4 linked regions of the Homo sapiens genome follow. The protein of the gene in region 1 purifies or fractionates together with the protein of each later gene. This does not show direct contact. Each region holds a gene or a part of one and is shown on either strand. Other genes may lie near its edges.

What was found.
Region 2: the proteins of TMPRSS11B (region 1) and MSMO1 purify together in Homo sapiens (affinity purification with mass spectrometry; 2 studies listed by BioGRID and IntAct, with this or other methods). This does not show direct contact.
Region 3: the proteins of TMPRSS11B (region 1) and CLGN purify together in Homo sapiens (affinity purification with mass spectrometry; 2 studies listed by BioGRID and IntAct, with this or other methods). This does not show direct contact.
Region 4: the proteins of TMPRSS11B (region 1) and TM9SF2 purify together in Homo sapiens (affinity purification with mass spectrometry; 3 studies listed by BioGRID and IntAct, with this or other methods). This does not show direct contact.

What each region holds. Positions count from the first base shown.
Region 1 is NC_000004.12:68,228,689-68,235,715, forward strand, and holds part of TMPRSS11B (transmembrane protease serine 11B), read right to left. Parts: intron 5,936-7,027; coding exon 5,775-5,935; intron 3,729-5,774; coding exon 3,690-3,728; intron 2,693-3,689; coding exon 2,515-2,692; intron 829-2,514; coding exon 569-828; intron 197-568; coding exon 54-196; intron 1-53. UniProt on the Homo sapiens protein: Serine protease.
Region 2 is NC_000004.12:165,330,646-165,337,672, forward strand, and holds part of MSMO1 (methylsterol monooxygenase 1), read left to right. Parts: intron 1-2,694; 5' UTR 2,695-2,725; coding exon 2,726-2,980; intron 2,981-7,027. UniProt on the Homo sapiens protein: Catalyzes the three-step monooxygenation required for the demethylation of 4,4-dimethyl and 4alpha-methylsterols, which can be subsequently metabolized to cholesterol.
Region 3 is NC_000004.12:140,417,643-140,424,669, forward strand, and holds part of CLGN (calmegin precursor), read right to left. Parts: intron 1-7,027. UniProt on the Homo sapiens protein: Functions during spermatogenesis as a chaperone for a range of client proteins that are important for sperm adhesion onto the egg zona pellucida and for subsequent penetration of the zona pellucida.
Region 4 is NC_000013.11:99,496,980-99,504,494, reverse strand, and holds the start of TM9SF2 (transmembrane 9 superfamily member 2 precursor), read right to left. Parts: upstream 3,024-7,515; 5' UTR 2,889-3,023; coding exon 2,718-2,888; intron 1-2,717. UniProt on the Homo sapiens protein: In the intracellular compartments, may function as a channel or small molecule transporter.

The sequences.
Region 1 (7,027 bases):
ACTTCCATTTGATTAACTGGGAGAAAACAACTGGATAATGTAACTAGACATACCTGACATGCATCAGCTTCTCCTGACATAAATCCAGCACATAACATTGTATCAGTCACAAAGCCAGAGTATGCATATGAGGCATTGCAAATTTTGTTGTCAATAATCTTCAAAAAGTCTTCTTGAAGTATCACTGGAAATGAACCTAAAAGCAATAAGTGCTGCATATTATGCAGATCTTAGACTTTGCTGGGACAAAGAATATCTACCTATAGCATAAAGCAGACTCTCTTGGTCACCAAGAGTCAGGCCAGTCCCAGGTTAGATTAGTCTCTTTCAGGTGTTTGTAATAGTTGGCTGCCTAACACATAATTTCAATTTTTCCAATTCCCATTCCCAGAGATATTTTAGGAAGTGAAGACAATTTGACATCATGCTTTTTGTCCCACCACTTGGTTTTCTTTTCAGTATATTTACTGATTGATTAATTGCATGAGGGGATGATTGATTGATTGATTGATTGATTGATTAAATAGTTATTCCCATGCAGCTATTATGATTTTACAAAAAAACTTACCATTCATATAAAGTGTTCCCCAACCTGTAACTACAACATTGTCATTTTCTGAGAGCTTCATTTTGGCTTCAGGAAGACAAATCTTACGAATGTACTCTGTAAAAGAAACTTCTTCAGCAAGCTGCACAAGGGCAATATCATCATGAAGCCCAGGACTGCTATAATTTTCATGAAAAATAATGTTTTGGACTTTCCGTGTCATATATGGTTTATTTACTACAATTCCAAAGTTGACAGTCCAATCTTTTGAATTATTTTTCCTAGAGGACACAATGTAATTAGAATACACTCAGTTGCTGGGTCACAACACTGTTCTTAGTGGTGATTATCTCATAATTTTAAGGCATGAGGTTCCCAAACAAAACTATAAACCACTGAAATTCTATTTTGAAAACTATCTTTGACATGGAGCTGTTGTAAATGTTGCAGTCACTTAAAAATAATGCTAAGGACTCAGATTTGTCAGCTTTCTGAAGATCTTTTCAAGTAGAGTCACTGATGTTTTCCCCTGCTTATTCAGTTCCATCCAGTTTCTGAACATTTAATTTGGTCAGGAATCACATGAGCGTCCTCAATTCCGTAAGTGGATGGGGTCCAGGATTAGTCTTATTGCCACATACCCTTGGTTTCAATAGCTACTTTTTTTACCCTCACCCTTCTACCACCCTCAAGTAGGCCCTAATGTCTATTGTTCCCCTCCTTGTATCCATATGTACTCAGTGTTTAGCTCCCACTTATAAGCAAGAAGATGTGGTATTTAGTTTTCTGTTCCAGCATTAATTCATTTAGTTTGGATAATAGCCTGCAACTGCATCCATGTTCCTGCAAAGGCCATGATTTTATTCTTTTTTATGACTGGATAGTATTCCATGGTGTATATGACCCATATTTTCTTTATCCAGTTCACCGTTGCTGGGCATCTAGGTTGATTTCATGTTTTTGCTATTGTGAGCTGTGGTGTACATACAAGTGCATATGGCTTTTTGGTAGAACAATTTATCTTCCTTTGGATATACTCAATTTTTGGGTCCAGATTAAATTTTACGTCAGATGGATATGCTGTCTTTCTTCAAATTTCCATCGTACTTACTATCTTTGTAATACGTGTCATGTTTACAATACTATACAGCCTCGTACTTTTAATATATGACATTTAAATTTTCTCAACTAGATTATAAACTTCTGGATGGCAAGACAAGGAAGCACCTAGTAACTGGAGTCAGACACACTTGAATTCACATTCAGTTTCTATTATTTAAGAACTAGGCTGGGCATGGTGGCTCGCACCTGTAATCCCAGCACTTTGGGAGGCTGAGGCAGGCGGATCACTTAAGGTCAGGAGTTCGAGACCAGCCTGACTAACATGGTAAAACCCCGTCTCTACTAAAAATACAAGAATTAGCTGGACATAGTGGTGCGTGCCTGTAATCCCAGCTACTCAGGAGGCTGAGACAGGAGAATCGCTTAAACCCAGGAGGCAGAGTTTGCAGTGAGCTGAGATCGCACCATTGCACTCCAACCTGGGCAACAGATTGAGACTCCATCTCAAAAAAAAAAAAAAAGAGCTGAGTGATCTTAGCCAAGTTTTGTCACCTTTCCTGAGTGAGACTTAGTTTCCTCATCTTCAAATGGTTTTAACTATACCTTCCATACAGAATTGAATGTTGTGATTAAATGAAATGATGTTAAGTAAAGCACTTAATGTCAGGCCAAGGTACCTATTTGGAAAATGTTAATTAATACTTCTATTTGCTTTTCTCTCCTTTCTCTAATTTAAATGCATTTCCTTTCCTGCTCTTTAATTACGCAGGTGATTGTAAATGTTCTATGTGATTGTAAATTTCATATGGCCTTGGTGAACCTTGACACATTAAGTTAACCCCTACAAACTATCCAAAATAGTTTTGCACCTAGCATCCTTCATTTAGTCAAATTTTCAAACTTACTTAGCAAAGCAGTGAGCTGCAGATAATAGCCACCTGCTGCTGATCAGAGAGGCTCCACAGTAGTGACGGCCTTTCCATTGCATGCTGGCCTGCCATGGCCATGCCCCCTCCAGGGAGCTTTTTCCATTCACAATTTTGTTGCCAGTTATGATACTGTTGGCTACTTGTCTCCCACAACCTAGAGAAAGGATTTATTTACACGAGAGCAGGTATCTTTGATTACGCATTATAAAAAAATATATCATTAAAAATTACTTGAAACCTTTCAGTGATTATTCAACTTCTCCTAATTGATGACGTTTCTTTCCTACAAGATACTCCTGTGATGTTTCTGTATTCTATCTTGGTTTGAGTGGTTCTTACTTATCCTCTTTTCCAGTCTCAAGCATCTTTCAACCACTATTTTTTGTTGTGTCTATGTGTTATAACTCTTGTCTCTCTAAGCAGATTCTTGAAGGAGGAGCTTTGCCTCATTGGTGTCTACATCTTGCATAGTATATGCACTGCTGTCTGTAAGACACCATGTGAACAAAAGATACTCCATAAATATCCATGGAGTGAATGAATGCATAAATGTATCTTGTGGAAAACATGATACTCTAAAGAGAATTTATTTAAAAGATGTAACAGGACAGCGATATGCTCCTATAGGCCCAGCTACTTGGGAGGCTGAGGCAGGAGGACTGCTTGAGCCCAAGAGTTCCAGGCTATAGTCCACTGTAATTGCACCTGTGAATTGCACTCCAGCCCACACAACATAGCAACATCCCACCTCTAAAGCAAAAAATAATAATAATTTTTAAGATGCAGAACTGTTTTTATCTTTAATAAATATATTTTATATAGCCTGGTTTTATATTTTCTTCTTATCCTAAATTGTCATTTCCTTCAATCTTTCTCATTTTAACATATTCAAATATGATATTTTTCACTCACAGTTTTATTATTTGGAATCAATTTTCATTTAACTTTTTATATATTTTTTAATAAATGTTAAAATTAATAGACCAGTGTTTTTCAAAGAGAAATTCTAAGTCAATATCTGGTATATCTAGTAATTCGGAAAGCGTGTTATGGGATTTCCACATGACATATTTCAAGTATTTTTAATAGAAAAATAATGAGAAAATACCTGTGAGTCCATCAAATTTATAATTAAAAGGTCCTTAACTTACAGTTGTTGGTAAGCATTTCAGAAGCAGCCTTGCTGATTTCTGAAAGTGAAAAACAAAACAAAATATAAAATTGAGCAAATATCACCAAGCAATTGACTTCAACCTAAGAACATAAATGCTAACTTTCCTAACCCAATATTGTCCAACATTTAACTATTTGGAGTAGTTCAGGTATTTTCAGCCCCTCTGACTCTTATTTGTTACATTATAACCATCTCTCCATATCTCTACTAGGTAGCCTAGAAAAAGAGAAAAGGGAATAAAAAACAAAAATCAGTTTTATGATTATTGAAGTAAAATATTCAGTGCTGTAAGAAGCTGGCACCCTTACAAATTGTTTTTTTATTATACTTTAAGTTTCAGGGTACATGTGCACAACGTGCAGGTTTGTGACATATGTATACACGTGCCATGTTGGTGTGCTGCACCCATTAACTCGTCATTTAACATTAGGTATATCTTCTAATGCTGTCCCTCCCCCCTCCCCCTTACAAATACTTTTAAGAGATCATGATAGAGATTTCTTTCCCATGATAATTCTCTTTACTCTGAAATGCTCAGAATTATATATATTTTAAGGAAAAATGTCCCAATTAAAATTATACTTCACTGAGCCCATCCTGCTCTTTAGGGAAATCTCCTTACTAAGAATGAATCATGAAATTTTGAGAACTTAAATTTAAATCTTTTTCCTATTGGTAAAAGACTTTAGAGAGAAGGAGAAGAGGAGGAAACTAAAGAAACACTAGAAAATGCTGACTATACTCTATGGGACACAGAAAGAGAGTAAACAACGTATCCCTCTTTCCCAAAAGCTACTCACAGAAAAATTTTATTGCTCCCTTGAAAAGTTCTACCTCAGGTTCCCTTCTTATTAGTGGTTCACTGGTAACGGGGTCTTTATTGTGTGGCAAAAGAGCGGTAACTGGCAGATGTTGCTGGCCTTTCAAGCCCTCGAAGACCCTAGGATTAATTGTCTGGCTGGAAGAACCATGAAACTGGACTCTGAAATCATATGCTTATCACCTAGCTGGACTTTTAACAATCCAAGTGACAGTTTCAAGACCTTTGCAAAACCTTCACAATCTTTACAAACTTCACTTTCTGTAAGGAGGCAAAATCTTATCATTTTTCTGTGAGAAGCTTTTGGGAAAGAGGGATAGATTGTTTACTCTCTTTCTGTGTCCCATAGAGTATACTCAGCATTTTCTAGTGTTTCTTTAGTTTCCTCCTCTTCTCCTTCCCTCTAAAGTCTTTTACCAATAGGAAAAAGATTTAAATTTAAGTTCTCAAAATTTCATGATTCCCTTGTTTTCTAGGGAATTTTCCAGACAATTTTTTTCTTTAAAAGTGGTATTACTCCAGTTTTTTCACAAAAATCAATAAGAACTCCCATCCCTAACATTGTTCTTAACTCCTGCAGTCTCCTTACTGAAAGACCAAGAAAGCCCTAAATCTGCTTTCTGTCATGAGATCCTGACAAAAGCAAGGAGTAGAAAAGAAAGATACTTTGCCTGGGCTCGGTGGCTCATGCCTGTAATCCCAGCACTTTGGGAGGCCGAGGTGGGCAGATCACAAGGTCGGGAGTTCAAGACCAGTGTGACTAACATGGTAAAACCCTGTCTCTACTAAAAATACAAAAAAATTAGCCAGGTGTGGTGGCGGATGCTTGTAGTCCCAGGCTGAGGCAGGAGAACTGCTTGAACCTGGGAGGCAGAGGTTTCAGTGAGCCGAGATCACGCCACTGCACTCCAGCCTGGGCAACAGAGCAAGACTCCATCTCAAAAAAAAAAACAAGAAGATAATTCAATTAGAACCCTTCACCCCCTTTCCCATGCATAATAGCCAAACCCTTCCAAACTTACATCCATGCTTGCAGTGTAACCCTCATTCCTATCATTCTTCAGACAATGATTCCATGGCACTGCCCTTTCCACTACCAAGTCATTGCTAGGGGTGCCAGAGTTAGGTACGCATATTTTTTTCCCGAATTACTAAAACTCTTAGTTCACTTTTTAGTACTTTTTAAAAAAATAATCCAGAAAAAACCTATGTAATAGAAAATAATGGAAATAAGTCAAATACCCATGAGTTTAATGGAAGCAGGAACTGCATTCCAGGATGCCATGTTGTTTTTCAACATCTGATGTAATTTAGCCTTGATTTTAGTCCTCATGCTAACTCCTTCTGCTGGAGGAAACTTGAATTTCAGCTGTAACTGCACATTTGAACCATTGGCATTAGGCCTAGAAACAACAGAAATTTTCTAATGTACTGTTTCTTGATCTTTTAGAGGTTTTGTGAACACATTAAATTTCACACATTTTAATTATCACATTTTCTTTACATATATTAAAGAAAAATATACATATACTATCTAAGCATGTATAAAATTCAAAGATATCTAAAAAAACTTCTAGTACGTCTAGTTCAGATGTGCTATTCATGGAAGAAAATATAGACCACAAACTAAAATCAGAATATTTCAAACACTATGGGAAATGGAATACTGGCCAAGAAATGATTGGCATGAAGTCTTACTATAATACAATAAAAACCAGTGCTCTCATAAAGAATTTTTCTAATAACTTCATTTTATAGAAAGAGATAAATGAGAAAATAAAGATAGGGCAGGGAAGCATTCAAAAGACAATTTCCAGCATGTATTTAGAAGCCAGTGCTAACCTTCTTCCTACGGTTTTTTTATACATAACCAGTCTGCCCCAACAGATCTATACAATGAAAAAGCTCAGAAAGAGAATTCTAAAGCATGAAGGACATCTTGATTATATATTCAGTACATTCTTTTGATTAATCAGGAAAAGAGATTAATTCATTTTGGAAGACTTTCAAACCAAAGCCATATCAATCAGAATTGTTAAAATATCCATAATTTCACTTTCAAATAATTATGATCAATTCTAGGGTCTTTGAAGGTTTTTGTTTGTCTGTAGGTAAGTAGGTTGGTTAGGTCAGCTGGATTTTTTGTTTGTTTTGTTTTGAGAGTTCAGAATTCCCCAGAACTGATATTAACAATTACCAAATTACAAGTGGGCTCTACCCTCATTACTCTTCCCCCATACACTATACCCTCCTCCCTGCATCCCTCCCTACCACCACTATCTTCAGGCATCCTTCAAAGGTGTGTCTAGACAAATGTTGTCTTAAAATATTGTCTTTGTTCCACAGCCATTGTAAGGATGATAATTATTAAGGAAACTAAAATAGGATGTTTTTAGGGAAGGTATGGGCTAAAAACAAACCAGTTGAATTATTTGTTTTCCCTGGAGTTATAATTATCTTTCATCATAGCAGTCAGTTAGGACTGACCACCACCA
Region 2 (7,027 bases), about 97 Mb from region 1:
CAGGTGGGGAGCCAGATTGCAAGTAGCTCAGTGAGTTGTGTGGGTGAGTTAAGCAACCTTTTTTATTCTTTTTTTTTGAGACGGAGTTTTGCTGTTGGTGCCCAGGCTAGAGTGCAGTCACAGCTTACTGAAACCTCCACCTCCTCATTTCAAGCGATTCACCTGAACTCCTGACCTTAGGTGATCTGCCCGCATCAGCCTCCCCAAGGTGCTGGGATTACAGGCGTGAGCCACCATGCCCAGCTGAGTTAAGCAATCTTTATGTAGAGCTCTCCTTTGAGAAAGAAGTTGGTTGGTTCAAAGAAAGATAAATGGGACAGTGGCTTGGAAGAGGTAATGGAGGCTAGGAAGGTGTTTATCAACAAAGGAAGATGTAGGCTGGGCGCAGTGGCTCACACCTATAATCCCCACACTTTGGGAGGCTGAGATGGGAGGATTACTTGAGCCTAGGAGTTTAAGACCAGTCTGGGCAACATAGGGTGACCCCTGTCTCCACAAAAAATTAAAAAAATTAGCCAGGCGTGGTGGCATGTGCCTGTGGTCCCAGCTACGAGGGGCTGAGGTGGGAGGATTGCTTGAGCCTGGGAGGTCGAGGCTGCAATGAGCCATAATTGTGCCACTGCACTCCAGCTTGGGTGACAGAGTGAGACCCTGTCTCAAAAAAAAAGAAAAAAAAAAAGAAAAGACGTGAATGTGTTTTTAGACCTGAAGGAATGGATTCCATGAAGGGAGAAGGATGAAAGATGGGAAAGGATAAGTGATGGACAAGTTCTTGAGGTAAGATAAGAACACAGGAAGACTAGTCAGTCTTAGAGGAAAGAATGAATGAGCAAAGAAATTTTAAGGCCTGTAATGACACAGGATGGAACACTATAGTCACTGTGGTGTAAGTCATTTGAGATGAGTAGGACAGAAGGAGGACGGCCTGAAGTGAATTCAGATGCCTGGAGGAGTTGGCTAGGTTCTCAATATTCCTTCTGTAGAATGGGATAAAAGGTCAGTTTGAGAAGTGTTGGGGAAGGGGACTTTTAAAGCACTATTTAGAATGCTTCTGAGGCTTTAAAATACTCATTTTTAAAATGGTCCAAAAAATTCATAAATTAGAAGCAGCAGTGGTGAACATTTTTAGGAAAGTGACCCTTGAGAAGTTTATTTTTTGGTTAGTGACCTATTGAGCTTATTTATTAGGTAAGTAGAACATGCTCATTTAAAAAGTTTAAATTGTGCAAAAGACATATGTCAGATTTTTTTTTCTGTCTTCCATAACACTATTTCCTACCCCGCCGCGCTCTGTCTTCCGTAACACTCTCCCCTACCCCGTCGCCACTCTGTCTTCCATAACACTGTCCCCTACTCCACCACACTGTCTCCTACCCCGCCGAGCTGTCTTCCATAACACTCTCCCCTACCCCGCCACGCTGTCTTCATTAACACTATCTCCTGCCCTGCCACACAACTCTGTTTTCCTAGAAGTCACCAGTGTGAATTTTTCCCTTTATCCATATGTACATTTTTTGTTTCTGTGTGTCTGTGTATATACATATGCATAAAAGTGCATAGATAAAATACATATCCTTTTCAAAAAATCTTAAGTGGGGCTCTTGCTATGCATACTGTTCTGTAACTTGTTACTTGGATTAACACTGTATCTTAGACATCTTTCTATGTAGAGCGTATAGATCTTCCCTGTTCTTTTAAATGGCTGTATAATTGTCTATGGAAGGACTTAATTTATTTAACCCATACCTTGTTGATGGCTTATTTGTGTTTTGCTTTTATTTTTTCCTCTTTGTTTTTGCTGCTACAAGCAATGCTTCCTTCCATCTTAGCGGATCTGTCTTTGTACCCTTGAATGAGAAAGTTGCTGGATCAAAGGATGTATTCATTTTGAATTAGGTGTTGCTAATTTTTCCTCCAATGATACACTGATGTATCCCCCCTGCCCACAGTGTGTGGTCATGCCTGTTCTCTCACCCTCTTACCAGTACTGGACATTAATAAGCTTTTAAAGATTTGCTACTCAGGCTAAAAGTGTCTCTTTGTTTTAGGGTGCATTTCCTCATTTAATGAAGTGAAGATTCTTCCTTGTTTAGTGACCATTTGCCTTTATTTTTCTGTGAACTGCTTGTGAATGGCATTTGTCGTTCTTCTGTTGTCTTTTTAGTCTTTTTTCTAAAGCACACTTTGTAGCCCTTTGTTGTAAAATGTTGGAAATATTTTTCCCAGTTTGTCATTTAATCTTTGACTTTGTCTTTCTATTCCCCAGTAGGAGGTACTTAATTTTTATATACTCATATTTGGCAGGCTTTTTCTTTATAGGTTCTTTTGGCTTTAAGTGATACTTTTAAACCCAGCTATTGCTCATTTAAATTAGAACCTTTTCCATGAGAACCACACTGACGATTTCTTTAAATATAGCTTGAAAAAATTTTTCCCCTATTGTTCTTTTAGCTATTGTTCTTGAAAATAATGTGTTTTTTAAAGGAATATCTACAAATAGAAATGGTGATGATATCCAGCAAATGTTTTAAAATGGTGTAAAACCATTTGTACTCCTTTAGTAATTTTTTGGTAAAAAATTTATACTCCTTTAGTAATTATCATTTTTAAAATGATCAGAGGATGCATTTTTTAACTGTTTTATTTTTTGAAAGCTCATTGTTTAACTTATTATATATGTATTCATTTCTACAGAATTATAAGGCTGTCTGCAGAGATTTGAAAAATGGCAACAAATGAAAGTGTCAGCATCTTTAGTTCAGCATCCTTGGCTGTGGAATATGTAGATTCACTTTTACCTGAGAATCCTCTGCAAGAACCATTTAAAAATGCTTGGAACTATATGTTGAATAATTATACAAAGTTCCAGATTGCAACATGGGGATCCCTTATAGTTCATGAAGCCCTTTATTTCTTATTCTGTTTACCTGGATTTTTATTTCAATTTATACCTTATATGAAAAAATACAAAATTCAAAAGGTGAGTATAAGGGACTAGAAATAGAATATTATCATTAATGTTGCTGAATATTTTAAAAGTACATAGGGCTTTGTTTTGTGAGGCTAAAGCAGTGATATCCAATAGAAATATGAAGCCACGTATGTAATTTTAAATTTTCTAGTAGAATACATAGAAAAGGTAAAAAGAAATAAGGAAATTAATTTCATAATGTGTATCATTTAGCTCAATAAATGTAAACTATCGCTGGGTGCAGGGTCCATGCCTGTAATTCCAGCACTTTGGGAGGCCAAGGCAGGAGGATTGCTTGAGGCCAGGAGTTCAAGACCATCCTGGGAAACATAGCAAGACCCTGTCTCTACAAAAAAGATACAAAAATACCCAGGCATGGTGATGTAAGTCCTAGCTACTTATGAGGCTGAAGCAGAAAGATTGCAGCACTATACTCTAGCATAGGCGACAGAGTGAGACCTTGTCTCAAAAAAAATAAGAAATAAATGTAAATTATTATTTCAATCAGTAATCAAATTCTAAAAAATACTTAATGAGATATTTAATAAGTCTTTGCAATTCCGTGTGTATTTTACATTAATTTTAGTCTATCTCAATTTAGACTAGCCATGTTTAAAGTGTTTGGAAGCCACATGTTACTAGTTGCTCCTGAATTGAGCAACACAGTCCTAGGTCATTATTGATAACATTTCAAGAATACTTTGTTAAATTGGGCTTTAAGTAGATGTGATGGTTATCTAACTTAAGTTTATGAATTTTAATGTTTAAGCTAGCTGGAAAGGAAAGGTGTGGTGATTTGCGCATATTTTGCAGTTCACCCCAACTCTATGTTCCAGTAAATCTAAGGGACTGTTAATACACTACGACCTTGATCAGGGCTATTCAAGTTTTTTTTCCCTAAATATATGGTAGGTAGTTCTGCAGCATTCGTATCATCCCAAATAAGGAGGTGATGCTCCTCGTTTCTGGATATTTGCTTCATTGCACTAAATGTTGAGAGGTCGCTATGTACATGACAAGGTGAAATCTCATATGTAGCCTGTGAGCTTGACGTGAGAATTTGGAGTAGCTTATTAGAAAGATGAATTATTTGTTAGAATTTGTAAGCTGATGATAGTTTCTAGTGTTTGCTGTTTACTTTTCATAAAAAGTCATTCCAAACTAAAACTCAGGGGCACACAGTCTTGGTAGAAAGTAGACCATTGAGAGTATTCATCTATGGAAAGTAATTTACATTCACTTAGTACAATTGGCCCTCCATATCCATGGGTTGTTGTATCCATGGATCCAACCAACTGCAGATCAGAAATATTCAGGGGAAAAAAATTGTGTCTACACTGAACATGTACAGTCTTTTTTTTCCTTGTCATTATTCAAAATGACAACTATTTATAGAGCATTTGCATTTTATTAAGTATTATAAGTGCTGTAGAGATGATTTAAAGTATACGAGAGGATTCGTGTAGGTTATGTCAAATACTATGTCATTTTATATCAGGCACTTGAGCATCTTCAGATCTTGGTATTTGCAGAAAGTCCCAGAACCAATCCTCAAAAGATACCAAAGGACAACTGTATATATTTTGGATGGCAGTCTGTACACATTCTCTGTTATCATTCTGTTAGTTTCACAGCCTCTCCCAGAGTCTCACTTTAAGCAGGTATTAATATTAGTCCTCTCTGGGGATAATGCAGGGGTCAGATGACTGTGGACTCCAGGCCAAAGGAGAAAAGAGCAAAGGGTAAAGGCGAAGGAAATAAAAAATAGGAGGGCCAAAGGAGAGTACTCTGTGACCCTCAATTAAGGTCACAGAAGCTCCAAAGTGCTTTTTAGGAAAGCAGCTGCTTTGAAAGGCAGAATTAAGTTTGGACGTCTAAGTTCTAATGCACCTTTAGGGTGATTGTGGCTGCCGTGTTTCACCCAGTGATTTATTTATAGGGCTTATTCATTGTAATTCATTGTATGGCTGGCCAGGCAAAAGCATCCTTTTTCTCCTTCACTGCAGTTTGTAACTGACTCACTGGTTAGAAGTAGTAACCTTTGCAGAGAGACAAAGGACTTTCTCAGGCAAGGGTATATGAGCAGCTTTAAAATATAATGTGGCAAAGGAAAGAATAAGCTGTAGTCTAGTTGGTCAGAGCTAGTTGTTTATGAACAGATTGTAAGGCTGGATAATTTGACTTCAAGTCTGTACTCAGCAAGTCTTTATGTTTCATAACCATTAAAGTCCATGCTTTGAGCATTTTTGATAAAAAATGTGATTTTAAACCAGGACTAGTTTTCACAAGTTAAAGGAGTTTTAAAAGAAACCAAAATATTGGTACAAATTAATTACAGGTTTATGCATTTCGAAGGCAGATACCCTGATTAACATTGAGGGTATCAATTGTTTAAGATAAAATATTTGAGAATTATATTTAACATATGCAATAAATGTTTTTATTCTTAAAATTGTCGAAAAGAATAGAAGAAGTTGGTGGTGGTGATGAAATAGTACTAAAGACTTTCTGCTTTCAAACAGAACAGACAACTGGAGAGCTAATGCACATCCTTGCTAGTTAGGCGAAAATTTCACAGGAATGAAAAAGTAAAGCAGACTTTGCAGGATCTATTTCTTTAAAAAAAAAAAAAACATACATCTTAGTAATTCTCCAAAAATTTTCCTCAAAGATAAATGTACTAAAAATATTATTTCTGAAGTTTGTGGCCCTTGTAAAGGTATTCCTTTATATTAAGTACAGTTATGCATAAAGAAAGTAAAATATGGTAAACTTTCATATTGCACTAGGTATGAATTTGTATTGCTAACTGTCTTTGTAACTAATTTATGTATACTGTAAATGGTATAGCATGTGATTTTATTATAGTTGATTAACTTTGTAATTTCTGTAACTGCATCGATATCCCAGTCTACCTGGAAAATTAAGTCTATTAACCATAGTTGCTGTAGGAGACAGTACTATTGCCAACTGAAGCCTGAATCCTTCATTTATTTTGTCCCCAATTACAGAGTGGAGGTTTAGAGGAGTGGGGTTAGATAATGCTCAGATTAGAAATACAAAGGCAGCTGTCAGATCCTCCCATTTTATTGTTGAAGAAACTGAGTTGTAAACATCACAAGAGCTAGTTAACTGGTGAGTAGCAGCCCTGGTATTAGAGCACAAGTCTCTGGATTGATTCTTAGTTCAGTGCTTTTCCTATTTTTGTCAGGAAGATAACCCTTAAAGAATTTCAAGAACAGAGCTGGATCTGGAGACCTAGATTTTAGTTAGTCCAACTTCTGCTAATAACTGCGTGTGTGACCCTGCCCAAGCTGGTTGACCTCTTTGGGCTTCTGCTGATGCGCAGTAGTTCCCGTACTTTGGATATCGTGGTTCAATTAAAAGAGTTTTGTTGGCGGATACCTGAATTTTTCAGCAGTGACATTTAAAACAAAGCAATAACTGATATTTATTGTCACCATCGTTTTGTTAAGCCCAAAGCACTTTTTTAAGTGCAGTCCTATAAATTGAATACATTTAGTTAGTGTTTGTTTTGTTTTGCTTTGTTTTTTATAATGACTTGCTAAGCAAATGGGTATCCTGATGAGGTCTTAACGAACATCCCATGTTGATCTAACTTTTCTCATTTTGACTTGAATCTGTGAACTCCATAATCAGGACATATCTGTGTACTTCTCAACTCAGAGAGTTTATAATTCTGTCATTGGATTTGAACAAAAGTGCATTTATTTGTTGGAATGAATACCACTGAGTGCCTGGAAGCATCGACTTACTGTGTAAAAGGCTTCCAATGCTTCGTATACAACTTCTTCAATTGTGGACACCCAACAGTAATCTTAGCATATTATATTTCTTCTTCTCTGAAACTTCTGGTAAAAGAAGTGAAGTGAATGATCTGTGGCAGCAAAGACTGGAGAATTATTCATTCCATAGTGTTTCTTAGTTTGTTTGAGATCATCATGGCTAGGCGCATCTGTTAACAGTTTCTTCACCTGAAGTAGTGATAGTAGTTGTCAAGAATTTAGAAGGCAAAGATTCCTGAGTCTTAGTTAT
Region 3 (7,027 bases), about 72 Mb from region 1:
AGGGATGTGAAGGACCTCTTCAAGGAGAACTACAAACCACTCCTCAATGAAATAAAAGAGGACACAAACAAATGGAAGAACATTCCATGCTCATGGGTAGGAAGAATCAATATCGTGAAAATGGCCATACTGCCCAAGGTAATTTACAGATTCAATGCCATCCCCATCAAGCTACCAATGCCTTTCTTCACAGAATTGGAAAAAACTACTTTAAAGTTCATATGGAACCAAAAAAGAGCCCGCATCGCCAAGTCAATCCTAAGCCAAAAGAATAAAGCTGGAGGCATCACACTACCTGACTTCAAACTATACTACAAGGCTACAGTAACCAAAACAGCATGGTACTGGTACCAAAACAGAGATATGGATCAATGGAACAAAACAGAGCCCTCAGAAATAACGCCGCATATCTACAACTATCTGATCTTTGACAAACCTGAGAAAAACAAGCAATGGGGAAAGGATTCCCTATTTAATAAATGGTGCTGGGAAAACTGGCTAGCCATATGTAGAAAGCTGAAACTGGATCCCTTCCTTACACCTTACACAAAAATTAATTCAAGATGGATTAAAGGCTTAAACGTTAGACCTAAAACCATAAAAACCCTAGAAGAAAACCTAGGCATTACCATTCAGGACATAGGCATGGGCAAGGACTTCATGTCTAAAACACCAAAAGCAATGGCAACAAAAGCCAAAATTGACAAATGGGATCTAATTAAACTAAAGAGCTTCTGCACAGCAAAAGAAACTACCATCAGAGTGAACAAGCAACCTACAAAATGGGAGAAAATTTTCACAACCTACTCATCTGACAAAGGGCTAATATCCAGAATCTACAATGAACTCAAACAAATTTACAAGAAAAAAACAAACAACCCCATCAAAAAGTGGGCGAAGGACATGAACAGACACTTCTCAAAAGAAGATATTTATGCAGCCAAAAAACACATGAAAAAATGCTCATCATCACTGGCCATCAGAGAAATGCAAATCAAAACCACAATGAGATACCATCTTACACCAGTTAGAATGGCAATCATTAAAAAGTCAGGAAACAACAGGTGCTGGAGAGGATGTGGAGAAATAGGAACACTTTTACACTGTTGGTGGGACTGTAAACTAGTTCAACCATTGTGGAAGTCAGTGTGGCGATTCCTCAGGGATCTAGAACTGGAAATACCATTTGACCCAGCCATCCCATTACTGGGTATATACCCAAAGGACTCTAAATCATGCTGCTATAAAGACTCATGCACACGTATGTTTATTGCGGCATTATTCACAATAGCAAAGACTTGGAACCAACCCAAATGTCCAACAATGATAGAATGGATTAAGAAAATATGGCACATATACACCATGGAATACTATGCAGCCATAAAAAATGATGAGTTCATGTCCTTTGTAGGGACATGGATGAAATTGGAAAACATCATTCTCAGTAAACTATTGCAAGAACAAAAAACCAAACACCGCATATTCTCACTCATAGGTGGGAATTGAACAATGAGATCACATGGACACAGGAAGGGGAATATCACACTCTGGGGACTGTTGTGGGGTGGGGGAACGGGGGAGGGATAGCATTGGGAGTTATACCTAATGCTAGATAACGAGTTAGTGGGTGCAGTGCACCAGTATGGCACATGTATACATATGTAACTAACCTGCACAATGTGCACATGTACCCTAAAACTTAAAGTATAATAAAAAAAAAATCTAAAGATAAAGATGATAGTAGTTATCAAACACAAATAATATGTAGACCTCTTTAAAAGTATCATGATTCCTAAATGTTCACTGAAATTGTTTTTATTATAATGTTGCTTAAGTGTATATAAACATAAAAATGGAAATTTTATAATTATAAAACCAAAATACATTTATATATAAATGCTGAGAAAAGATACAAAAATTTTTTTATCACAAATTTAATGTGGTAGAGTTTTACTAAAATCAAAGCACATTCAAAAGATCAAACAAATATAGGGCTTATTGTAATCAGGTAGACTGCTATGGAGAAAGTTCTTTTGCATATATAATTCCTATAATTCCACAATTACATAATTACTTATATATTTATGGACAAAGACAAAAATGATGGGTGCTGTCATTAACTAGGATTTGATCTCTCTAAATCACAAAAGAGGTATAACTGGGATAGGAAGTAAATGTAAAGGGATCAATTTGACACAATGAAATAGGCTTATTTCCTTAATTTCCTAGTTATTGGCACAGAAATTTGTATATCTGCAAATTGCTTATTAATTGTGAACTCTAAAAGCTTCATTGTTCTAAAAGCCTAAGGGCCTTCCATGTTACATAGTAAAAGGCACTTTGCTTGACTGGCTATTAATCATTTTTGAGCAAAATAAAAACACATAAAATAATACTACTAATAATGAACATTAATATAACTTTAGACCCATATCCTCTCTTTCAAATGAATGTACACTTTAGGTTCCAAACAATTAATTTGTTGAAAAAAAAACATTCTAAGTGCTTTGTTTGAACTCTGGTGTACTGGGCTGCCAAGAAAGAGTTAAGAGGAAGCCAAGCAGGTAGTGCTCTATCTGGAACTCTACCCTTAACTCAACCAGAGCACCCCAGTTTTATTTGTATTCTATATTATAGTTTTTCCTGACTTTTCCTTAGAAATAGTTGCCAATGCTTCAGAAAACAGTTCAGAAAACACTTTATCTTGAAAGTTTGTTTCTTCTTTAAAATTCTATGATCTTATATTTACATCAAAGAACTAGCTAATTTAATCTTTACAGCCCAGGACATGAATAGCGTAGGTACTATTCCTAATCAACAAAACAAAAACAGAGAGTTTTAAAGAACTGCAATTGGTTAGAAGGCATTCTGTAGACAATGCAGTTCTATTGTTTTTATTTGTTCTTTTTTTTAAAAAAAAAAATCAGAAATACAGACTTAATACTTTCTGCGTAATGCTGCAGTATCCTATCATTCTTCAGTGCTGCACCAGCTGACAATTGAGAATTAGATACTGAAGTTCACAGTCTTGAAATCTGTCTCACAATGGTGCCAACATGTTATTAAGTTCCAAACAAAACTATGAGGTTTGTGACATCTCATTTCTTAGAGAGAGGTATGCTATTGACAAGTCTGTACTGAAACTCTGAGAGGTCAGATGCTGGGGTAATACTACAAGAAAATGAAGTAGTTAATTTATGCATTTAAAATTGTTTTAAATCACGTGGTAAAACATTCTCATTGTTGTACAACTAATTTCCAAAACTTTCTTCATGCTCTAAAACTAAAACGCTATACACTTTTAACAACTCCCCACTACCCTTCCCTCCAGCCCCTGGAAACCATCTTTCTAATATCTATCTCTATGATTTTGACTACTCTAGGTACTGCATATAAGTGGAATCATACAGTATTGGTCTTTCTGTAACTGGCTTATTTTACTTAGCATAATGCCCTGAAGCTTCATCCATGTTGTAGCATGTATCAAATTTCCTTCCTTTTTAAAGCTGGACAGTATTCCATTGTGTGTATACACCACATTTTGTTTATACATTCATCTGTCAGTGGACACTTGGGTTGCTTCCACCTGTTGGCTGTTGTGAATAATCCTACAATGAATATGGGTATACAAATAACTCTTCGAGACCTTGTTTTCAATTCTTTTGAGTATATACCCATAAGTTGAATTGCTTGGTCATATGATAATTCTATTTTTTTTTGAATCCTCATACTGTTTTCCACAGTGGCTTTACCATTTTACCTTCCCACCAACAAGGCACAAGGGTTCCAATTTCTACACATCCTTGCCAACATTTGTTCAAAATTATGTTTTTTTAAATAGTAGTCATTGTAATAGGTCCTAATATGGCGTAGTATCATATTGTGGTTTGATTTGCATTTCCCTGATGATTAGTGATACTGAGTATCTTTTCATGTGCTTGTTGGCTATTTATACATCTTCAAGGGAAACATGTCTATTCAAGTCCTTTGCCTATTTAAAAAATCAGGTTTTGTTTTTGTTTTGAGTTGTAGGAGTTCCTACAAATTCTGGATACTGACCCCTTATCAAATATATGATTGGCAAATATTTTCTCCCATTGCATAGGTTTTTCATTTTGTTGTGTTCTTTGATGCACAGAACTTTTTAATTTTGAGTTTTCCAATTTATATATTTTTTCTTTTGTTGTCTGTGCTTTTGGTGTCATATAAAAATTACTGGCAAATTCAATGTCATGAAGCTTTCCATGTTTTCTTTTAACAGTTTTATAGTTTTCTTATGTTTAAGTCTTCAATCCATTTCGAGTTAATTTTTGTCTATGATTTAAGGTAAGGTTACAACCTCATTCTTTTGCATGTGGATAGCCAGTTTCCCCAATATCATCTCATGAGAAGACTGTCCTTTCTCACAAAATGGTCTTGGCACTTTTATAAAAAAAATTTGAACATATATGTGGGAATTTATTACTAGGCTCTTTATTGTATCCCATTGATATATATGTCTGTCTTTATGCCAGTCTCACACTGATTTGATTACTATAGCTTTGTAATAAGTTTTGAAACAGAGATGTGAGATTTCCAAACTTATTCTTTCCCAAGATTGTTCTGGCTATTTGGGGTCCCTTGAGATTCTATATGAATTTTACTATTCTTGCAAAAAGTGCTATTAGGATTATGACAGGGATTGCACTGAATCTGTAGATTACTTTGGGTTGTGTTTCCATCTTATTAAGTCTTCCAATCCCAATGAACACAATGTCTTTCCATTGATTAATATTTGTTTCTTAATTTCTTTCAGCAGCATTTCATAATTTTTCATGTACAAGTATTTTACTTCCTTGATTTATTCCTAAGTATTTTATTCTTTTTTATGTTGTTATAAATGGAATTGTTTTCTTAATTTCCTGTTCATTGTTAGTATACAGAAGTGCAACTAATTTTTGTGTGCTAGTTTTTTTACCCTGCAACTTTAGTGAATTCATTTGTTTGTTTTTTGAGATGGGATCTCACTCTGTTACCCAGGCTGGAGTGCAGTGGCACCATCATGGCCCATTGCAGCCTTGAACTCCTGGACTCAGGTGATCCTCCACTTCAGCCTCTCGAGTAGCTGGGACTACAGGCAAGCATCACCATGCCCAGCTAATGTTCTGTATTTTTCTGTAGAGATGGTTTTTGCCATGTTGCGCAGGCTGGTCTTAAACTCCTAGACTCAACTGATCTGGCTACCTTGGCCTCCAAAATTGCTGGGACTACAGGCATGAGCCACCATGCCTGGCCTTCATTTATTATTTCTAACAGACTTTTGTATTGTGTTCGTGAAATCTTTAGGGTTTTGTACATACATATAAGATCATGTTATCTGCTGAGATAATTTTACTTCTTCCTTTTCAATTTGAATGTCTTTTTTCTTTCTTTTTCTTCCCTAATTTCTCTGGCTCGGGAGAAGTGGAAAAAGCAGGCATCCTTGTCTTATTCTAGATCTTAAAGGAAAAGCTTTCAGTCTTTCACCATTTAGTCTGATGTTAACTGTGGGCTTTTCATATATGACCTTTACTATGTTGAGGTGGTTTCCTTCTATTCCTAGTGTACTGAGTGTTTTTTATTATGAAAGAGTGTTGAATCATGTCAAATGCTTTTTCTGCATGAATAAAGATGATCATGTGTTCTCCCCTCCCTACATTGTAAATGTGGCATGGTACACTGATTTTCTTATGTTGAATCATCCTTGAATTTTAGGAATAAATCCAACATGGTCATAGTATATAACTCTTTTAATATGCAGCTGAATTTTGTTGTCAAGTATTTTGTTAAGAATTTCTGCATCAATAATCATCTGGAATATTGCTCTGTAGTTTTCTTGTAGTGTCTTTGGCTTTGATAACAGGGTTATGCTGGCTTCATAGAATGAATCTGGAAGTGTTTACTCCTCTTCAATATTTCGGAAGAATTTGAGGAGGACTGGTGTTAATTCTTTCAATGTTTGGTAGAACTCACCAGTGAAGCCACCTAGTCCTGGGCTTTTATCTGCTGGGAAGTTTTTGTTTACTGATTCAATCTCCTTACCAGTTACAGGTCTGTTCAGATTTTCTACTTCTTCATGATTAATCTTGATAGAGTGTGTGTTTCTAAGAATGTATCCATTTAATCTAGGTTATCCAATTTGTTGCCATACAATCCTTCAGCGTATTCTCTTATAATCCCTCTTATTTCTGTAGAATCAGATGTAATGTCCTTTCATTACCAATTTTAGTTATTTGAGTCTTCTCTCATTTTTCTTAATCTAACTAAAGGTTTGTTAATTTTTTTGTTGACCTTTTCGAAGAATTAACTCTTGATTTCACTTGTTTTCTCTCTTGTTTTTCTATTTTCTATTTTGTTTCTCTCTGCTCTAATCTTTATTATTTCCCTCTTTCTTCTAACTTTTGGGTTTCATTTGCTCTTTTTCTAGTTCCTCAAGGTGTAAGTTAGGTTGTTAACTTGAGATCTTTTGTTTTTCATGTAAGTGCTTAAAGCTATAAATTTCCCTTTTAACACTGCTTTCACTGTATCCCATAAGTTTTGGTATCTTTTGTTCTCCTTTTCATTTGTCTCAAGATGTTTTTCTAACTTTTCTTGAGACTTATTTGGCTCATTGTTCAAGAGTGTGCTGTTTAATTTCCACATATTTGTGAATTTTTCTTGTTTTCCTTCTACTATTGATTTCTAGTTCCTTTCCTTTGTGTTCAGAAAACTTACTTTGTATGATTTCAATCTTTTAAAATTCATTAAGACTTGTTTTGTGGTCTAATATGGTCTATCCTGGAGAATGTTCTATGTGCAGTTAAGAAAAATGTGTGTTCTGCTATTGTTGGGTACAGTGTTGTCCATATGTTTATTATGTTTAGTTGGCTTGTGGTGTTATCTATTTCTTTATTGATCTGTATGGTTGTTTAAGTTATATAATTTTAGTACAGCAAGAATTTGTTTATATGGTATAGGGTAGAACATTTAGTGCTAATGTCACCCTCTTCCCTCCTTATAAATTAAAAGG
Region 4 (7,515 bases), on another chromosome or scaffold:
ATTTGTTTCATCTCTACACTATCACAACAATGACAAATATTGCACTTTTCCTCTAAGAAATGCAAAATACCTTTCAAGGGGAATATGTCATAATCAAATATGATTATCCCTATTTTACAGATGGAAAAACTGTTGGTAACAGTATCAATGACCTGCCCAATTTCTCCAACTTCAGATTCACTAACTTAACAGCATCTTTTGGAAAAAATTATTTCCATTTCACAACTCTCATTTCTAATTTTTAAAAGAAGTTCCTTCCACTTTTCTGAATAATGTGTACAAGACTGTCCTCCTTAACAAATACGAAATAGATGAGAATAAATTATTAACATCCTGATTGAAGTAATACAAATTTCAACTGTTTACTGTTATTTATAGCATCTTCTTTGAAAGGCAAAGAAAATAAATATTAAAGTGTATTTCAAATTCTCTACACCAGTTAGTCATATCGCAGGAAAAAAGCTGAAAGTACACCCTCCTGCTCTTCTAAGAGTTGTTTCCATTAACCAGATGTGAGTGTAGCTGGCAATAAAGATAAAAATCCAAACATTTCGGAAAAATGATCTGCTCTGCCTGTTTTATCCCTATACCTATGAAAATTAAACATCCAAAATGACTCCCAAGATTAACTAAAAAATAACTAGAATACAACCTAGCCACTTACCAAAGGACCTGTTGAGAAAACAATCATCTAACTGGAAGACCACCTATAAGTTTCACTTATTCATTTTCTAAGTCCATCTCAAATGTCACTTCTTCTTCTTTTTTTTTTTTTTTTTTTTTTTGAGACAAAGTCTCGCTCTGTTGCCCAGGCTGGAGTGCAATGGCGCGATCTCAGCTCACTGCAACCTCCACCTCCAGAGTTCAAGCGATTCTTCCTGCCTCAGCCTCCCGAGTAGCTGGGATTACAGATGCCCGCCACCACGCCCAGCTAATTTTTGTATTTTTAGTAGAGACGCGGTTTCACCATATTGGCCAGGCTGGTCTTAAACTCCTGACTTCAGGTGATCCACCCGCCTCGGCCTCCCAATGTGTTGGGATTACAGGCGTGAGCCACCACACCTGGCCCTGTCACTTCTTCTATAGAGCTTTCCCTAAAGACTCTAGTCCACTGATGTTTCCTCATTTTGTTTTAGCACACTTTGGACATCATCCTGTGTAACAGATCAGATTTCAATAATCTGTTCATAAGCTTATGTCCCTTACTTTGAGGTTCCCAGAGGGCAGGAAATATATTTTTCATCTTTGAGGCACTAGGAATAGAATATACAACTGCTGTTAAAGTAAGACCAAACACTAGGCCTTAAAGGTTGGTTACTAAAATATTTAATGGAAAAACCAGTGTACTTGCAAGTCTAGATCTTCCACTTGGAAGCACAACAACAGTCTTTCAGTCAGAATCCTCAAAAAGGAGTGAAAGCTTCTTGCACTGCAGAGTATGAACTTAAGTACTGAAACACTAACTGCAGACTTGAGTAAACCTTAAATATCCTTAGATATTTTTTCAGATACAAGGTTTTGCACAGATGTATAAACATGTCATTCAAGATAGCTGACAACCTAAAAAGAAACTGCAAAATGTTATGAAAAATTTAAAGCTTATCTAATGCCCTAAAATAACCTCAAAATTCACAGCTATAGTAAAGCTAACTGTAATAAACACCAGCTTAAAAAAATCAAACTTAATAAATAAGCCTATTTATAGATTGTAAACGTTTGTTGAACGATTATTTGAATTGTTGAAATCATTAAAGGTTTCAAAGAGATCCTCATCCCCCAAATGTTAAGTTTTAAATAAACTTAACGAAATAATTGTGTATGTATACTGTAAAGCCCTACACCATATAACCTAAAAGCAGGTTACTTTATTTACGCCTCTTTTACTAGCAATTAAACTGAAAACCTTGAGTGTGAATGTTGTAAGAGATCAAAGTTTTCAAGACTTGCCCTAGGAAAACACCAGTTTCTCCCACCATTTGCCCCTTTTAAGTGTTTAAAACCATCTCAGAGAAAATAGTGAGACCTCGTATCTTTTTTTGTGTATTAAAATCTTTTACACTTAAAACTCAGAAATCAAGTGCCTCAACCATTACAGCAACTCTTTATTAATGCACTTTGTGTGGCTCTGGGTGTTATACTCCACAAATAAGGAACCAACTTCTAATTGTGAAGCGAGATATCAAAGTCCTAGAAAGAACAAGCTCTCCTAACCAACTAGAAGGTTCCAGGAAAATGCAATTAAACAGGAAGCAATGAAGTTAAAAGCTAATGGAAACTGTTAACTAGGCTGAGTGTTGCTCACATGTAGGGAGTCGGTCACCCGCTTCCTCAGCGTACATGTTACAGGGCTGTGAGCGAACACTCACGCGTGGACCTGCATACATCCAACTCCAAAGCTCTGAGGCGTGAAGCCCAACTCCAAGGGCGCTCCACACGGTCCCTGTTCCAGGAAAACTGAATACAGCTGCTCGTGCCACTTGGCCCGCAAGACGGGAGGCGAGTCTGAGGCCCACTGCGTCCTCCAGAAACTACCCTTGCAAGGGCTGTTTCAGAGCCCCCCACCCACAGCCCAGCAGACCCCAAAAGCTTCTGGGGAAACTCAACCCCACCCGCTGCTACGCCCCCTTCCCTCGCTCCCACCCGAGGATCAGCTCCCCCGGATAGGGACGACTTCCCCTTCCAACAGTGCATCAGAGGGCTCGTCAGGCCTCACCCACCTTGCACTCGTCGCTCTTTTTTTCTTCGTCGCAGAAGTTGACGGGCGCCAGGCCGGGCAGGTAGAAAGCGCCGCTCCGGCGCGGGCCAGGAACCGCCCCCAGCAGGAGCAGCGACAGCAGCAACAGCCGCGGCCACCGAGGTGGAGACAACACCGGCAGCCTCGCGCTCATGATAGTTGTTTCGGGGAAAGGGCAATCAAACCTAGGGGGTCAAGAGGGAAGGAGGGGTGGGGAGTCTCGGAGACGACTACAAGGCCGCCAGAGATAAAGGAAGCCGGCCCCCAGAAGGCTAGTTCCGGTTGCGCTAGGAGACACCCCGGGTCCCGCAACAGAAACCGAAGCGGACCGCAACAGAGCATGCGCACCGCCGTCTGCACATGCTCAGTGAGAACGGTCGCAGGCACCAGGAGGAGTTTCCGGGAGGGAGCGGGGGCGAAATCCACTTTCCGGGTTTTCCGCGCGCCAGCTGAGGTGGTTGCTGGGAGAGGTGGTTGCTGGGAGAGCTGTTCCGGCGCTCACGTTCCAATTCCAAATTACAAATTCCGATCTAGAGCTCCCACGCTTGGGGGCTGTGGAGCGCTCGCCAGCCGCTCCCCGTTTGCTGCTGGGTCTTACGAAGTTCTCATATCCATCATACAGTTTCTTTGTCACACTGTCCGCGGCACGCCAGTCCCTATGACAGAAAGCACCTGCGGTCTGTCTGGAGGCGGAGTTGGTGGCGGAGAGAAAAAGTTCTGGAGACACCTGGTTGGGAGCAGGCTAAGGAAACAAATGGGGAGGAATTAGCCACAAATCCTCAAATAGACAGCTACTCAAAGGCATCTTCACGGACAATTTCCAAGCATTGGATGCAGTGGTGCATTCTTGCATTGGGCAGTGATTGTGTGCACACATCTCTTTAAGGGAGAGTGGAAATGGGGTGAGGAGGAAAATGGGAGTAGGATAGAGTGTAGCGTTGACATTTATTTTCTTTAAAGGAAGACCCGAGCATACCTGAGAGCTCAGTGAAGAAAGTAGTTCTGGCGAATCGGATTAATATGGTATGATCAGCCTTTAGCAAGATTCTATCACTTTTCCCACTGATGATGTGAGACGGTGTCCGCGTGTGTAAGTGCACACACGTGTGTGTGTGTGTGTGTTGCATCTTCTGAGTATTTTTCAAGGAGAAGCTTTTTAGTGATCTGAAAAAGTCAATTCAGTTAGCCACTAGAGTTCAATCAAAAACTTCGGAAGAGTGCATCATCTTAAAGTACATAAGAGAGAATCATGACCTCCAGCTCAGAATTCAAGAATAGGCAGGTTTGTGAAATAGTAAGCTCAGAAAGTTGAGGGCCAGTGAACTCCTATTTCAAGTTCTTGCGGGTGTTTGTACTTTTTTCCCAGGTAAGGTTTATAACTTTCATCAGATTTTCAAAGGGACCTAGGACCCTGCAAATTGATCCATATAGTGGGGTAGCCAAGTTAATCAAGAGAACTGGGAAGTAGAAAAGAACGTTCATCTTAAGGTTGTTGTGAAGATTAAATCAAAAATGGAGGGAAAGTGCTGAGCACATAGCTTGGCCCAAGGAATGGCACTTTTTTTTTTTTTTTTGATAACAAAAACTAATCTGGTAGGGCCTGAGCAGAAAATTGTGCCTAGGTGGCTTCCCTTTCATGTCCTCTCCCTCAAATAAATCAACATATTCGCTGAACTTTGGGATAGGGAAAAATTGTAAAATATTCTGTATTTGGAAGTCATGGAGATTTCCAATATAACAAAAGGAAGCAGACGTTTTCTCCAAATATTAAGAGGAGGAAACAAAAATTAACATTTTTGCTCACTATCTTCTTTTCCTAGCACCACTGAAACTTGACCTTCGGCCGGCGCGGTGGCTCACGCCTGTAATCCCAGCACTTTGGGAGGCCGAGATGGGCGGATCACGAGGTCAGAAGATCGAGACCATCCTGGCTAACACGGTGAAACCCCGTCTCTACTAAAAATACAAAAAAATTAGCCGAGCGTGGTGGCGGGCTCCTGTAGTCCCAGCTACTTGGGAGGCTGAGGCAGGAGAATGGCGTGAACCCGGGAGGCGGAGCTTGCGGTAAGCCGAGATCGCGCCACTGCACTCCAGCCTGGGCGACTGAGCACGACTCCGTCTCAAAAAAAAAAAAAAAAAAACAAAAAAAAAACTTGACCTTCATTATATCTCACTGCCCTCATCCCAAACATTTCCTCTCCCAGTTTTCCAGGAAACGGCATCGCTGCCCATCTCTTTTCAGGCCCCAACCCTGGAGAAGAACCTAAATTTCTCATTTCCTCACTACCTACCTCCAGTCCTTCAGCAGGTCCCGTTGGTTGGGCTGCTAAACTATGGGCTAAATCCTTTCAGTACTTTCCATGCCCACAGCTACCACTCTGGTCCAAGCCAAATTCTTAGTTCCCCTGGACTTCTTACTGCAGTAGCCTCTCAGCTTCCACTCTTGGCAAAATCAATTTTATAAAACCTTGAAATCCCTTAATACCACTCGTCTGCTTAAACCTCGGCATCCCACATTTACCACTATCAGGAAGGATCACGTTTGTTTGTTTGCTGTCTCATTCCCCCATTTATATGTGAATTCCACGGGTAAGGGCCTGCTCCTACATCCCACACCTCTACATCCACAGAGCCTAGAGACCGCAGGCGCGGGGAAAGCACTCCACGACCATCACTGGCCAGGCCACAAGAGTGCTGGATCTAAATTTGGAACCGGACTTTCAGAGCTGAAATAAACCTGAGGTTTTCCAGGGGCTTTTAACCTCCTTTTACAGCCAAGGATGCGCCTAAGAAAGGGGAGAGGCTTCCGTGACTTCCTGCAGTAACGCAGCCACTAGAGATTGAGACTACAACGACTTGGGAGTCTAAAAGTCTGCAACCTTTTCCACTCCAGAGCTCAATGTTTCCTCAATCCCCCGGGATCGGCATCAGCAAAAACCCGGAGAAGCGGAGCCTTTCTCAAAGAAAATGACCTCCAGACTCATGCTACCATCTCGACCGGTGCAAGTATCACGCATGCGCAGGGCCGGCCGCCCGGCCGCACCTCGCCAACTCCTACTCGGACACGTCATCTAGGTCGGCCTGGGTCTGGTGGGAGGGGCCGGGGGCGGGGCTCGTACGCGGGGCGAAGTGGTCCCCCTACTTCCGGATCCGGCCTCACCTGGCCAACGCCTCATTCGGGGTTCCTTGGTTACGTGGCTGCGGTGTCTACCCGGTGCTGGGGCGTGGCGGAGAGAGACCGCCCCGCCCTCCACGCAGGCCACAAAATGGAGGCCCTGCCCTGTGGGCTTTTGTGGCCTGGGCGCTGTCGTGCCGAAAGACGAAAGTGACAATTCCAGTTGCAAACTGGAAAGAAATGGAGTTTTTCCTTCATTCTCCCCATGATCGTGACGGTCCTTTTCTCAAAGTACTAATACTTTTAATGGGACTGTAAAACTTGAGGGATATGACTCTCTCCTCTCCTCTGCTTCAGATTGCATTTGCCAACTCTGATTTACCGCCAATACTATGGTGCTGTCATATTCATAGAGACAGAAAGTAGAGCAGTGGTTGTAGAGAGAGTCTGCAGAAGGAGGGATGGGGATTTACTGTTTAATGGCATACGGTTTCAGTATGGGTTGGTGAAAAAGTTGGGATGAATGGTGATGACTGCACAACAATGCAAATATGCTAATGTCACAGAAGTGTACACTTAAAAATGGTTAGACGGTAAGTTTTCTATTATGTATATTTTACCACAATTTTTTTTTAAATGCAACAGAGTCTCGCTGTTGCCTAGGCTGGAGTGCAGTGGCAGGATCTCAGCTCACTGCAACCTCCGCCTTCCAGGTTCAAGCGATTCTTGTGCCTCAGCCTCCCAAGTAACTGGGATTACAGGTGCCAGCCACCACGCCCAGCTAATTTTTGTATGTTTAGTAGAGATGGGGTTTCACCATGTTGGCCAGGCTAGGCTGTTCTCGAACTCCTGAACTCAGGTGATCCGCCTGCCTTGGTCTCCCCCAGTGCCGAGATTACACGCGTGAGCCACCACGCCGGGCCCCACAGTTTTTTGTTTTTGTCTTTTAAATTTTTTTTAACAGCATTTGTGTCTTTTTTTCTTTTTCTTTTGTTTTTGAAACAGAATCTCACTCTGTCACCAAGCTGGAGTGCAGTGGCGCCATCTTGGCTCACTGCAACCTCTGACTCCCTGGTTCAAGCAATTCTCCTGCCTCAGCCTCTCCAGTAGCTGGGGTTACAGGCACGCACCACCCCGCCCAGCTAATTTTTGTATTTTTAGTAGAGATGGGGTTTCACCATATTGGCCAGGGTGGTCTCCATCTCCTGACCCCGTGATCCACCTTGCCTTCCCAAAGTGCTGGGATTACAGGTGTGAGCCACTGCACCCAACCTAAATGGCATTTGTTTCTTCCACTCCTCTCTGCCAGAATAATTTGGACAGCCTTTTCTGAGTTTCCCATGACGACTTCTGTATAAGATTGTCGGATATAGCAAATAAAAGTACAGTATACCCAGGTAAATTTTAATTTCAGATGATCAATGAATAATTTTTTAGTATAAGTACATTCCAACTATTACATGGGACATAAGGGTATTTTATCTGATCACCCTACTTTTGTGTCAAGTTAAAATTATTAGCAAAAGTGCTTCCGTTTTTAGGAAGTGCACACTGTACTCTAGTAGTTAGGCAGGAGAACAGGGTCTGCGAGCAGGGAACCTAAGGCCGTTTCACACTGACTTCCTAGAGCCATTTGGAAAGGAAAACCCTAACTTTCCACTCCTAA